3 linked regions of the Homo sapiens genome follow. The protein of the gene in region 3 interacts with the protein of the main gene of each other region in a pairwise test. Each region holds a gene or a part of one and is shown on either strand. Other genes may lie near its edges.

Region 1 (3,751 bases), on a different chromosome or scaffold from region 3:
GACTCACTGTGGCATTCAACCAAGTCACTTCCCCTCTCTGGGTCATTTTCCTAATGTGCACACTGCAAGGCTGGCCCAGAGGATCTGGGGGAAGGCAGGTGGCGGGCGGCTCCTAACTCTGAGGTCCTATGGTTTCCCCTGGCTCCCCACTCCACCCCAGCATCATCCGGGAAGTTTTGCTTGTGTGTGAGGAATGGCCCAGACACACCCGCTGGCAGCACGTGGGTCACTGGGACCACAGCTCCCTGCTAAGCCCAATGCCAGACCCTGGCCACACTCATCTGCCAAAAAGCAGAGCACAGTTGGCCTCAGGCAGCCTAGGGGAACCCAGGCCGCCTGGGAGGGCCAGGCTGCCCTGCGCCCATAGGGGTCAGTCAGTTCGGCATGACTGCTGGCCACGTGCTGGCCCTGGGGAGCCCCTGCTGAGCCTGGGGCCCCGTCGCCAGCTCACCATGCTGACACTGCAGACCAGGCCCTGATCCCAGGCTCACCCTGGCTCCGGGCACAGACCAAAGCCTGGGCACCAACAGCCTTTGCACAGATGTAACCCCGGCCCTGCTCACCGGAGCGGGATGCGGATGGCAATGTAGCGGTCAATGGCGATGGCCAGGAGACTGAAGATGGAGCTCTGCGTGAGGACCAGGACGAAGCAGGCAATGAAGAGGCAGCCGTGGCAGGCAGCGCAGAACCCGGTGCTGATGGTGATGGCAAAGGGGATGGCGAGCACACCCACTGCGATGTCGGCCGCCGCCAGTGACACCACAAAGTAGTTGGTGACGTTCTGCAGGTTGCTGTTGAGCCACACGGCCCAGCACACCAGCACATTGCCCAGGATGGCCAGCACAGCAATGGCCAGCTCCACCGTGATGTACACCGAGGAGCCCATGATGGGCATGGCCACAGACGACAGGCAGGCTCAGCACGGACGCGGGCTGGGCCAGCTCACGGTCCATTGCTGCAGCCCAGCCGCCCGCCTGGCTCCCAGCCCGGCCCAGGCGGAGGGGCCCAGACCCCTGAGCCCCTTCCTCACAGGAGCCAAGTGCAGCCCTGCTGGGGCGCTCTCCAAGGGCTTTTTCACAGAGGACTCTGAGTCTCCTGAAACCAGGCCCTCTGCAGGGGTTCTGGCAGCAGCATCATGGCTCAGCCCAGCTTCAGGGTTCCTGAGGCACCTGCAAAGGGACAGCCGATGAGAAGCTGAACCATCTGCAGAGGGCGAGCCCTGCGGAAAGTGCCACCCCTTACCCCACACTTGGCCCCCTGAAGACCCTATAGTTTCAGATCCCACCCTACCCACAGGCCAGGTGTCAGCCTGAGGATGGCCCCTGACCCCGCCTAGCCCCATGCCCTGCCTGGTCTGCTGTGGTCATAGCCAGGAGGCGAGAGAGGTGGGAATTTGACCCTCACTTTAGAGGAGGACACCCAGAGAAGTCACTGAGCAAGGCTGGTTCCCCTGGTCCAATAGAATTCCCGCTGAGACTCCCACACAAACCCCTCCCAAGGAGGCAGCCCCTTCTCCCAGGCTCTGCAGAATGAGTACTGCCCTAGCTGGGCCCCTGCCAGGACTCCAGCTCACCCCAGCACTATCCATGGCTCCCTGCATTCCCTGCTCTGCGCATTGTTGTCACGGTGCCTCCCACTCTGGACTCAGGGCCAAGGATCAGATGTGGTCTGTTTTTTTCCTGGGGGAGCCAGAAACTTGTTAAAGTCTGTCAGTGTTGGCCCCCCCATGCTCAGCCTCTCAGGCCTCCTGTGGCAGCTTGGCCAGTCTCCTGGGTCCTGGATCTCGGCCAGCCCCATGACACTCCCTCCCAGAAAGGCCCCTCCCTGCCCAGGCTCTCCCAGTCCCACCCACCTTCTCTCGCCAGGCCAACTTCTCAGCCCCCCTGGCCTGCTCCATCCCGTCAACTCTCCCAGGAACTACCAGCACCCACCTAAGGGACACCAGCCGCCCTGTGAAAGGACAAGCCAGAGACCCCTGGAGCTCGGATGTGGAAGGATGTGGGGAGCTGCCTGGTCCTGTCTCCCACTGCCGCAGAGGGTAAGCCCTCTCATACTGCGCCCGAACCCGCTGCCTCCAGGTGCCCCTGCCAGTCAGCTGCAGTCAGGGCAGGGGCGGCGCTGCAGCTGACTGTGAGCTTCCACTCGGAGGGAGCTGCCTCACCTCCCTCCTCCCACGCCCTCTCCCCCACCTGCTCCTCTGCCTGGCTGACACCAGGAATGACTAACGGGAGTTTGGTCCCTGGCAGAAAGCAGGTACGGAACCAGGACTCACTGAGGGACTCTGGGCAAAAATGCTTTTCTTTTCTGGGCCTCAGTTTCCTCATTGATACGGTGAGGCAGCTGGACCCCAAATGACCTCTAGGGGCCATGCCAGCTCTCACCCATGATTCTATGAGAAGGAAATAAACAGATTTAAAATGGCTCCCCCAGAGTCAAAATGGAATTACTGACACCCCTCAGAAGCAGAAGTTTTGGTTCCCCAGCAGGCCTGAGCCCAGCCCCAACTCCCAGTGTCCCCTTCGAGCCTGTGAATGGTCTGGATCCAAATGGACCTCTGCCCGTTAAATTGCCCCTCTTTGAGAGCTAAGAGGCCCCCAAATCTACCCCCTCCAATCCTGAACCCTCATGGGGCCCTATGAGTGTGTTGCCAGCCGCCACCACCTGCCTGGGGACAAGAGGTCAGAGGCTGCCTTTCACGTGGACTCGGGCAGCCACCTCGTCTCTCTCTCTCTTCCAGGACATGAGGGATGGAGCAGGACTGGCAACCTGGAGAGGAAGTCACTCCTGGTCCTGAGCCCTGTTCAAAGGGCCAGGCTCCCCTCTACCCCATTGTCCATGTGACAGAGCTCAAACACACAGACCCCAACTTTCCCTCCAACTCCAATGCTGTCGGCACCTCAAGTGGCTGGAACAGGATTGGCACGGGCTGCAGCCATACCTGGGACTGGAGGTTCTCCTGCACCCAGCAGGCCCTTTTGCCCCTACTAGGAGCCTGGGAATGGAGCATTGACACAGAAGCAGGAGGAGGAAGGAGAGAGCAGAGCCAGAAACCCTGCAGCAACGGAGGGCCTGCAGCAGCTGGAGAGGGCCGAGTCCTCCCAAGCCCCTGCTTTCCATGGAGCACTTGCCAGGCAGCCATTCACAAAGTGTGTCGTTGGCAGGGATGCACCAGACCAGCTCTCCTGGCACCATCCCTGGCCACACTCAAGGAACACAGTTATCCCTGATGCTCTTGGCCTCTCTCCCTGAGCAGTACTCACCAGGGCCCACCTGACTCACGATAGCCCCTGCCCAACAGGTACAAGTGGAGCTGGTGCTGGCCCCGGGCTGCCTCCCACCCAGGTGCCTGGCCTGTGGCTCCAAGGTGGACTCCCAGGCCCAGCACCACCAGCAGCAGCAACAGGCGACTGTCCAGTGAGGCCCAGTGGGCCACTGAGGAGCCGCCTCTACCCAGGGATCCTGCCTCCCACCACGGCCCTCTCTAGGGCATCTGCATTGAAGGATGCCACAGCCTTCTGCCAATCTGACCATCCCAGGCTAGAAGGCTGATGCAGCCCCAGACCACGCTCCAGATTCAAGGGCCTTGCTGGGGGCAAACAAGGTGGAACATAACACGTCTGCCAAAGTGAAGGAGGACTCCCCAGTCCCATCACCCAGAGCCCTGCTGGTGGGGTCAAATCATCGGCGCCTGCCTCACGGGCTGGACTGGTGCCATGCCAGCTGGGATGCCCAGTTTGGGAGAAGCCTGACC
Region 2 (3,751 bases), on a different chromosome or scaffold from region 3:
CAGGCTATTAATACATAAATAACTTGAGTCAAAATGACCCTTACTGGTAAATGCTAATTAATAGTGGAAAACAGGCTAAAAGCACAATACACCACACCATAGTATCTCCTTACAGGTCCACATTTAAAGAATATCAGTTTATTATGTCAAAACACTACAGAGATCCAGGACTGGGACTGAATTACTAATTTATACAATTGCAAAAAAATTTAAGTTATAAAATAAGGTCATGGAATAAAGAAGGGTATTTAATTAGGACTAAATACTGTGAAGCCCATGAAAGGGTTTTAGCCTTGGAATTTACAAAGCTAAATTATTAGACTGTTAATGTTAGCTAACACTAAAACTGAATTACCTTCCATTTTAATGTTAGCTAATATTAATATTCAACTTTTTAATTTTGATGTTAGCTAAGGGGAAGGACGAGGACAACTTTCTTTTGTAGTTTCTCCAACAAGGTGTAAGAACTATCAAAAAGTAAAACCATAATGACCACTGTGGACTGACAAATGGCTATGAAACAAGAATATAAAACATTACAAATTTCAAAGAAAGGTAATAACTATCTTATGAATTTAGCAAATCCTGCAAACGTTAAAATCCATGTTAAGGCATTATCTATCATGGTTGAGAGTACTAAATTTAAGAAAATTATTACATGAAGATCCCATAAAAATAAACTGGTTTAGTTTACAAGATTCTAACTGAATCTTTTTGTATCACTTGAAAATTACCCTATATTATGCTTTCAAAATGGACAAAGAATTATTTGGTATTCACTTTATAATGAACTATGAGAACAGTCTATTGAAACACGTCATGTTAAAAAAAAATTGTTTCAATCATGTGTTCTTAAGAAAGCCAATCTTTGATATGACATTCACAATCAATGCTTGTATAAAACAAAACCTTTAAAACTTATAAATTTAGTAACAGTTTTACATGAAGCAAATTTATCTTTGCCCATAAATTATTAAGAGAAGCAACTCACTCTATACAGTGTATCTAGCAATACTTTAAAATCAAACTAAAACTCTGAACTGATAATAACTAGGAGATAAATTCTATTTCAGGCTGAAAACCGCTGGATCAGAATATAGTCAATAACTTCATATAACCTATCCCACCCTACCTTAACCTTTTATAGACAATTTTAAAGACTTTAGGACAATTTACTTATAATGCCTGAATCTTATAGTAGATTCCAATTTATTCAAAGATTATCACAGATTGGATTAAAAAGATCATTTAATTTTTTTCAGATTTGCTTTAAATTTACAAATTACATTGTACATAAATATTAACTTAGATAACCACACATAGGGAAAGCAGATACATGGATCATTGCAGAAACATTAAAATTTTTAAAAAATTTTATAAAATATAAAGCAAAACATGTAACTCACACAATACTAATATGAAGCCACATGACATAAAAAATAAAATTACTCTTTAAGAAGCAACTTAAAATTAAATCTTTGGGGAACTATTTTGACATAATTAAATGAATTCAAAGACCAACAGCTTCCCTTATCACACAGAAACAAATCACAAAATTTTCTACAATCTATATGCATTATCAGTTAGTTCTAAATGTAATCTCAAACATTTTACTAGCAACTTTGATTTCCTTTTGAAATAGGCTTCTGTACATATGCATTTATATACAAACATTTATTAAACATGATTTTAAAACAAAATGTATGTACAAAAGATCAGCATTCCTATAAATAAAAACATTAGGTGGCAAAAAGGCACTTGTAAGTAAAAATCTACAGTAGTTTTTACAAAACAGAAACACATTTTACCTTAGATACTGTACAATAAACATTAATTCCTATACCAATAATGAAAATGCTAGGTTACTAATGTTAATGATGTAACTTTAAAAAACAAATTTACATATATCTGAAGTTCATTTAATAAAAGCACCGTGATTTTCTCCTAAATTCATCTTGATGCAAAGTAAAAACACAATTCCCAAAAAACCAGTGTTCGCCATTTTTCGAGTTTAAAAGTTTTTGTATTTCTAAATTGAAAACTGTTTGTCTGAAATTAGCATAGTGTAAAACAAAAACAAAACAAAAAAACCCTGCTGCTCTGACTTCTGAAACCATACCTACTCTATTATTGCATGTTGCGTTTCATAAAGAGCACTACTCATGCACTCCTTTACAACTGTTTAATACTATTGCTGGCAAAAAAGTTCCTGGATATCAAATAATTAAAAAGTTACTTCAAACCAGTTGAAGTTTTATTTGAATGTTTTACAACTTAAAAAATGCTGTATATCAATTACAAAAGTGAACAGGAAACACACCAATTCATTTGGTGTGCAAAAATATTTTTCTACTACACAGAATTTAAGGGCTTCACAGAATTTTTTTTCCCCAAATTTACATTGTAAGAAGAAATGCTAAACAAATGACTTTCTCAAGGAGATGTTAGTATGCTTCCACTTTTGTCAAATTTTTTACCCTTTGATAATGCTGCGACCTGTTTGAGTAGTTCTCTGTTTTTGGCCTGTGGGAGACAAAAACATTCAAGATTAAAAATGTTTGAAATATTATTAAGTCATGCTGAAGAATACTACTTATTTAATACTGTTTTCATTTATATAAATGTTTCACTAAAGCACTAACATTAAATGAAAGAGTTGATACCTTTACATTCATCTCTTTAAGGATGAACATGCAGAAGGAAAATTCTAGATTGGCTCATCAGCCCCCTTTGTATATGTCATTATTAATATAATTGTGTCCAAAGATGCACAATTGGTTACAAAAAAGGAAACAAAGTGAATCCACTTAAAAGAAGGTCCAAATTTTAATAGGGAAAAGGTGTTTGGCCCTTCATCTTAAAAACATGAAAACTATGAAAATAAGTTGTAATTTACAATTAATAAAATCAAAGAATGAATCAAGATTTGGGAGGAGTATTTCCTGGCAAGCTGTATAAGGTCTTTTTTCTATGTTTACTCTCTTGTAGAACAAGCATAAGAGGTCATTTTTGCAAAAACAACTCAGAATTTGTTACTTTGCCAAATGCACCCAATGATATTCAATTTTTTTTAAAGCACCCATCAGAACCACTCATTATCTTGTTGTTCCTTTAGTTACCAGTCATCTGACACTGATTTTAGTGTGGTTTGAGCAGTTCCACATCATCATTTCCTATCTCATGAAAGCTTGAATTTTTACAAAGATTCAAAATTTCATTTCATCATCTGACTTGAATTTCATTATTAAATGTCCATCCATCACTAGTTTAGTGAAGAGGAATGTGTAAGTACAGTGAATATTTTCACATTTTGACTGCCTTTGTCACCTTATTCAGTCTCTTAAATATGAAAACTTAGATAGTAAGGATCCCTATATATACAAATACATTAATGATCAAGCATTTTTGTAGTTTGAGCCAAAATGGGGAAAGTGATGAAAATAGAGCACTGCCCTAAAATTAACACATTTTAAAAAGATATCCTCTGACTTATGTTTCAACACCATTTTCCTTCACAGGTTCCAGGAATTTTTATTATATAGACAGACTTTTTTAATCTCAGTACTTCATATTTTATTCTAATTTTAGCTTTTTACGGGCAGATAACACTCTGCCTTCTCTGTATGCCATCTTAAAGTGGTTTCATGAAATAACCTTTTTCAAACTTTATTCTTCCATTCCCCCACCCTTCTTCTCCAATCACTCTTGCTAATTAACACCCATGACCTCTAAAATGCAAATATTCTCAGTA
Region 3 (3,751 bases):
AATGCAGTGGCATGATCATGGATCACTGCAGCTTCAACCTCCAAGGCTCCAGAAATCCTCCTACCCCAGCCTCCTGAATGGTTGGGACTACAGGCATGCACCACCACATCCCGTTAATTTTTGTATTTTTTGTAAAGATGGAGTTTCGCCCTGTTGGCCAGGCTGATCTTGAACTCCTGGGCTTAAGCAATCTGCCTGCATAGGCCTCCCAAAGTGCTGAGATTACAGGGGTGTGCCACCACACCTGGCCCAAATTATTTGGTTTTAAACACTTGTTAGATTCCTAAGTGAATGGTAGGTATGGTAGAGAACTCCTCTGCCATTCTCCTATTGCAATCCACACCCACACATATCTCCACCTCCCCTAATACACATAAAAGCACACTACATATACAAGTTTTGTTTTGAGTATAGTTTTTTTCTTGTGGCTAAGTAATAAACCACTTTAAACTGATGTGTCTAGGAGGACGGCCATGATCTATCCAAATTTTCTTCTCTCCTATCTGGCATTTCCTACCATTTCATTTGTCCTTCGACTTTATGAGATTTATTATTAGGCCATAAAGATGTCATAATCCTGGAATAGAAAGGGAAAAGTCATCAACTACAACAGTTCCCAGAACATTCTCACTCACGGCAATATTAAACATCATAAAACTTCCTTTCTCACAATAGACCTTGGAAGCTGGGTGCTATCCTCAAGCTTTAGGCCAACAAATTAAAATAGAAAGAGGAGTTGAATGAAAATTAGAAAAAGTATAGTTTTTACTCAAGAAGTACCTCATATTTTTCTACACAAACCCAAATCTTCCCCAAAATCCCACGATTCCCTTCAGATTATGCTAACGCTCAAGCTGTACAGGAGAAAGAACTGTGGTAGAAAAGAAAAATAAAGCAAAAGAGAAGCTGGGAGAGAAAAATTATAAAATTCAATCATAATCTATTGAGAATAAAATTTAAAATTAACTACGAAAAAATTAAAAATAAAAACACTGAAAAAGGTTAAACATCTTACTGGAAAATGGTGAATGCTACATCATAAATCTATAAGAAGGTATTATACATAGTTAAAGAAAGGAAAAATAGCCAAGAAATAAAATAAGAAAGTAACAAGTGAAGGAATGGCAAAATTTAGAAATATGAAAGTAGACAAGATGTCAAAAAATTTTTAAAAGTCTTGAGGTCAGAGGCAAAATTTTGGAAGGGGATTTGGAGAAAGTTTGAACAAATGTAATGTACTTGTAATGTCCTTCACCAATCTAACATACTTCATGATTTTAAGAACATAAAATTTAACCTATATAACTTTTTGGTCATTAAAGTCATCATGCTAGGCAAATTAAAAAGTATAGTTGTCTCAGATTACTGCAATTTAAAAAATTTTAATTAACTACCAATTGCAGAACTTACTGACAGTTTATGAGAAACAAAAGAAGCTATACATTTCATTATATAACAAATGATGTTTACGGGTTTTTATTTTTTCCTGTCTAGTGGATTAAAAAAAGAAAAAATTTTTCAGATGCCAAGGAGCGGAAAGGAAAAGAAAACACTCACTGGATAAAGCTTGTGCTTCATACAGGTTGGTCTAATCAGCAAATATAAACATGAAGCATTGAGACCAAGGGTCTGGTGGCTACTGACCAGGTATATATGTTTAGGATAGTCTCTGAGCTTCAAATTTCATCTTTAAAATGAGGGAGTTGGATTAGAACATTATCTATGTCTGATTTAACATGATTGTTCAAAAGCTACTGTAAGCTGGGCGTGGTGGCTCACGCCTGTAATCCCAGAACTTTGGGACGCAGAGGTGGGCAGATCACAAGGTCAGGAGATCAAGACCATCCTGGCCAACATGGTGAAAGCCCATCTCTACTAAAAATACAAAAAAAATTAGCCGGGTGTGGTGACACGCACCCGTAGTCCCAGTTACTTGGGAGGCTGAGGCAGAATAGCTTGAACCCCTGAAGCAGAGGTTGCAGTGAGCTGAGATCGTGCCACTGCACTCCAGCCTGGTGACAGAGCAAGACTCCGTCTCAAAAAAAAAAAAAAAAAAAAAGCTACTGTAGTGGATGCTGTGGTTTTCCACCCAGACAGCTCCCTCCAAAGTCCTTCAAGAATGAAGCACTGATTCCTCCAGCTGCTGGGGCTATTGGTTGACAGTGCTTAGCTGCATCCCTCTCTAGGAATTGCCCTTGACCAAAGAGATCCACCCAACTCAAGGTTATACCCCATCCTGGGAGCAGGCTTGCATCCAATGTCTTACATCTAATGACTGGTCCATAAAGAGATGTAAAGGCTGAGCCCTCTTGCCTCAATTTGGGATATGGCTGCATGGCCATCCCAGCCCTAAAGCTCCTAATGGTGTCAGCTGAGGTCTCTGTGGCAATTGCATCACAGTTCAACTTCTCCCTTTGCCCGCCCAATCCTGCTTTCTTCTTTCCTTAATAGGTTGAACCTGAGAGCACAACCCAATAAACTTGATGCCCCAATAAATCTACATCTCAGGGCCTGTTTTTGCAGGAACCCAACGTAGGAGAAACCCTAAATACCTCTTACTTTTGTGAAAACATCAGTGCCTCCTGGAGACACACTTTTATTTTGAGATTTGGACTGTAGTTCTTGTTCTCAGTAATCAGGAATTATGAAGCCAGCAATATTGTCCAATAATTATTTTTATAAACCATTCTAAAATTATTTCAGAGTAATAAGGATTAGGTAGAAATATAGAAATGCTACATATTAAGATGTTCATTCACTATTTTAACAGTAAAAATGTATATTATACTGTAATTTTAAAAAATAAATGAGTGAATTTTTTAAGCCTTTGATTCTCTAAGAAAAATAAATGCTAGCACTAATAACTGAAAAATAGAGAAAGCTACTAGGATGGGGAAAAGTTAAGCAAAAATACAGAAAGTAAAAGATTTTACTAATAATAAGAGGCAAAAAACAAAGCACTCTTAAGGAGGAGCTGATTAAATTAAAAAGTGAAATACAAATGAAAGAAAGTATTACATTTGTACAAACTCAGAATTACGGAAAAAGAAAATTAAAATAAGTACATAATAAATGCCATTGCTCAAAATGCTTATATCTCATTAAATTAACCAAAGTTTTTATAATCTTTCCTGAATTTGATATTCTTTTCTTTTAAGGTGTTCTTTCAAGAACTTTGGTGTTTTTATTTTTCTTTCCCCAATTTCCTTTTTCTGTCCTATTGTTTTTCCCTCTAGTGTATACAGATTTCTACATGTCCAGTACATTTCCAGTGAGATAAGCCAATACACTTCTCTGTCATTGAGGTACCTCTCTTGTCCGCTTTATACTTTTGTCTCTTTCTTGCATAAGTCAATTTCTTCTGATAAAAAAAAAAAAAGAAAAAAAGAAATTTGAAACTGACCTTGAAGAGGCAGTTTGGTAAATAGACACATATTCTCTAACATGAGTTCAACTGGCTCCTTCACAATTCAAAAATGAATTGTCTACCAAACAAAGTAGATGTTTCAGAGATACGCCAAGCTTGGCAACAGGAGAAATCATGGACGCTGCTAAAGCAGCAACAGCTGATTTCATAGTCATGGAATGATCCTGCACCTGATCCCTGTCAAGATAACAGAGGGTCTTATTTACTGTCTCCAGCTTTGGTCCGTCTAAGTAGGTACTGTTTTCTGTTTACTTATCCCCCAGCTTTAGGCCTGGAACAATGTTGAACATAGTGTCACAGGCCCTGGTGCCAGACAGGATCAGG

What was found.
Region 1: the proteins of GPR37 (region 3) and ADORA2A interact in binary tests that used the Homo sapiens proteins (3 or more experiments, as listed by UniProt).
Region 2: the proteins of GPR37 (region 3) and FAM76B interact in binary tests that used the Homo sapiens proteins (3 or more experiments, as listed by UniProt).

What each region holds. Positions count from the first base shown.
Region 1 is NC_000022.11:24,430,549-24,434,299, reverse strand, and holds part of ADORA2A (adenosine receptor A2a), read right to left. Parts: intron 3,404-3,751; exon of another isoform or gene 2,738-3,403; intron 2,053-2,737; exon of another isoform or gene 1,866-2,052; intron 1,680-1,865; exon of another isoform or gene 1,574-1,679; intron 1,170-1,573; 5' UTR 896-1,169; coding exon 564-895; intron 1-563. UniProt on the Homo sapiens protein: Receptor for adenosine. The activity of this receptor is mediated by G proteins which activate adenylyl cyclase.
Region 2 is NC_000011.10:95,769,128-95,772,878, forward strand, and holds part of FAM76B (protein FAM76B), read right to left. Parts: intron 2,524-3,751; coding exon 2,434-2,523; 3' UTR 1-2,433. UniProt on the Homo sapiens protein: Negatively regulates the NF-kappa-B-mediated inflammatory pathway by preventing the translocation of HNRNPA2B1 from the nucleus to the cytoplasm.
Region 3 is NC_000007.14:124,759,117-124,762,867, forward strand, and holds part of GPR37 (prosaposin receptor GPR37 precursor), read right to left. Parts: intron 1-3,751.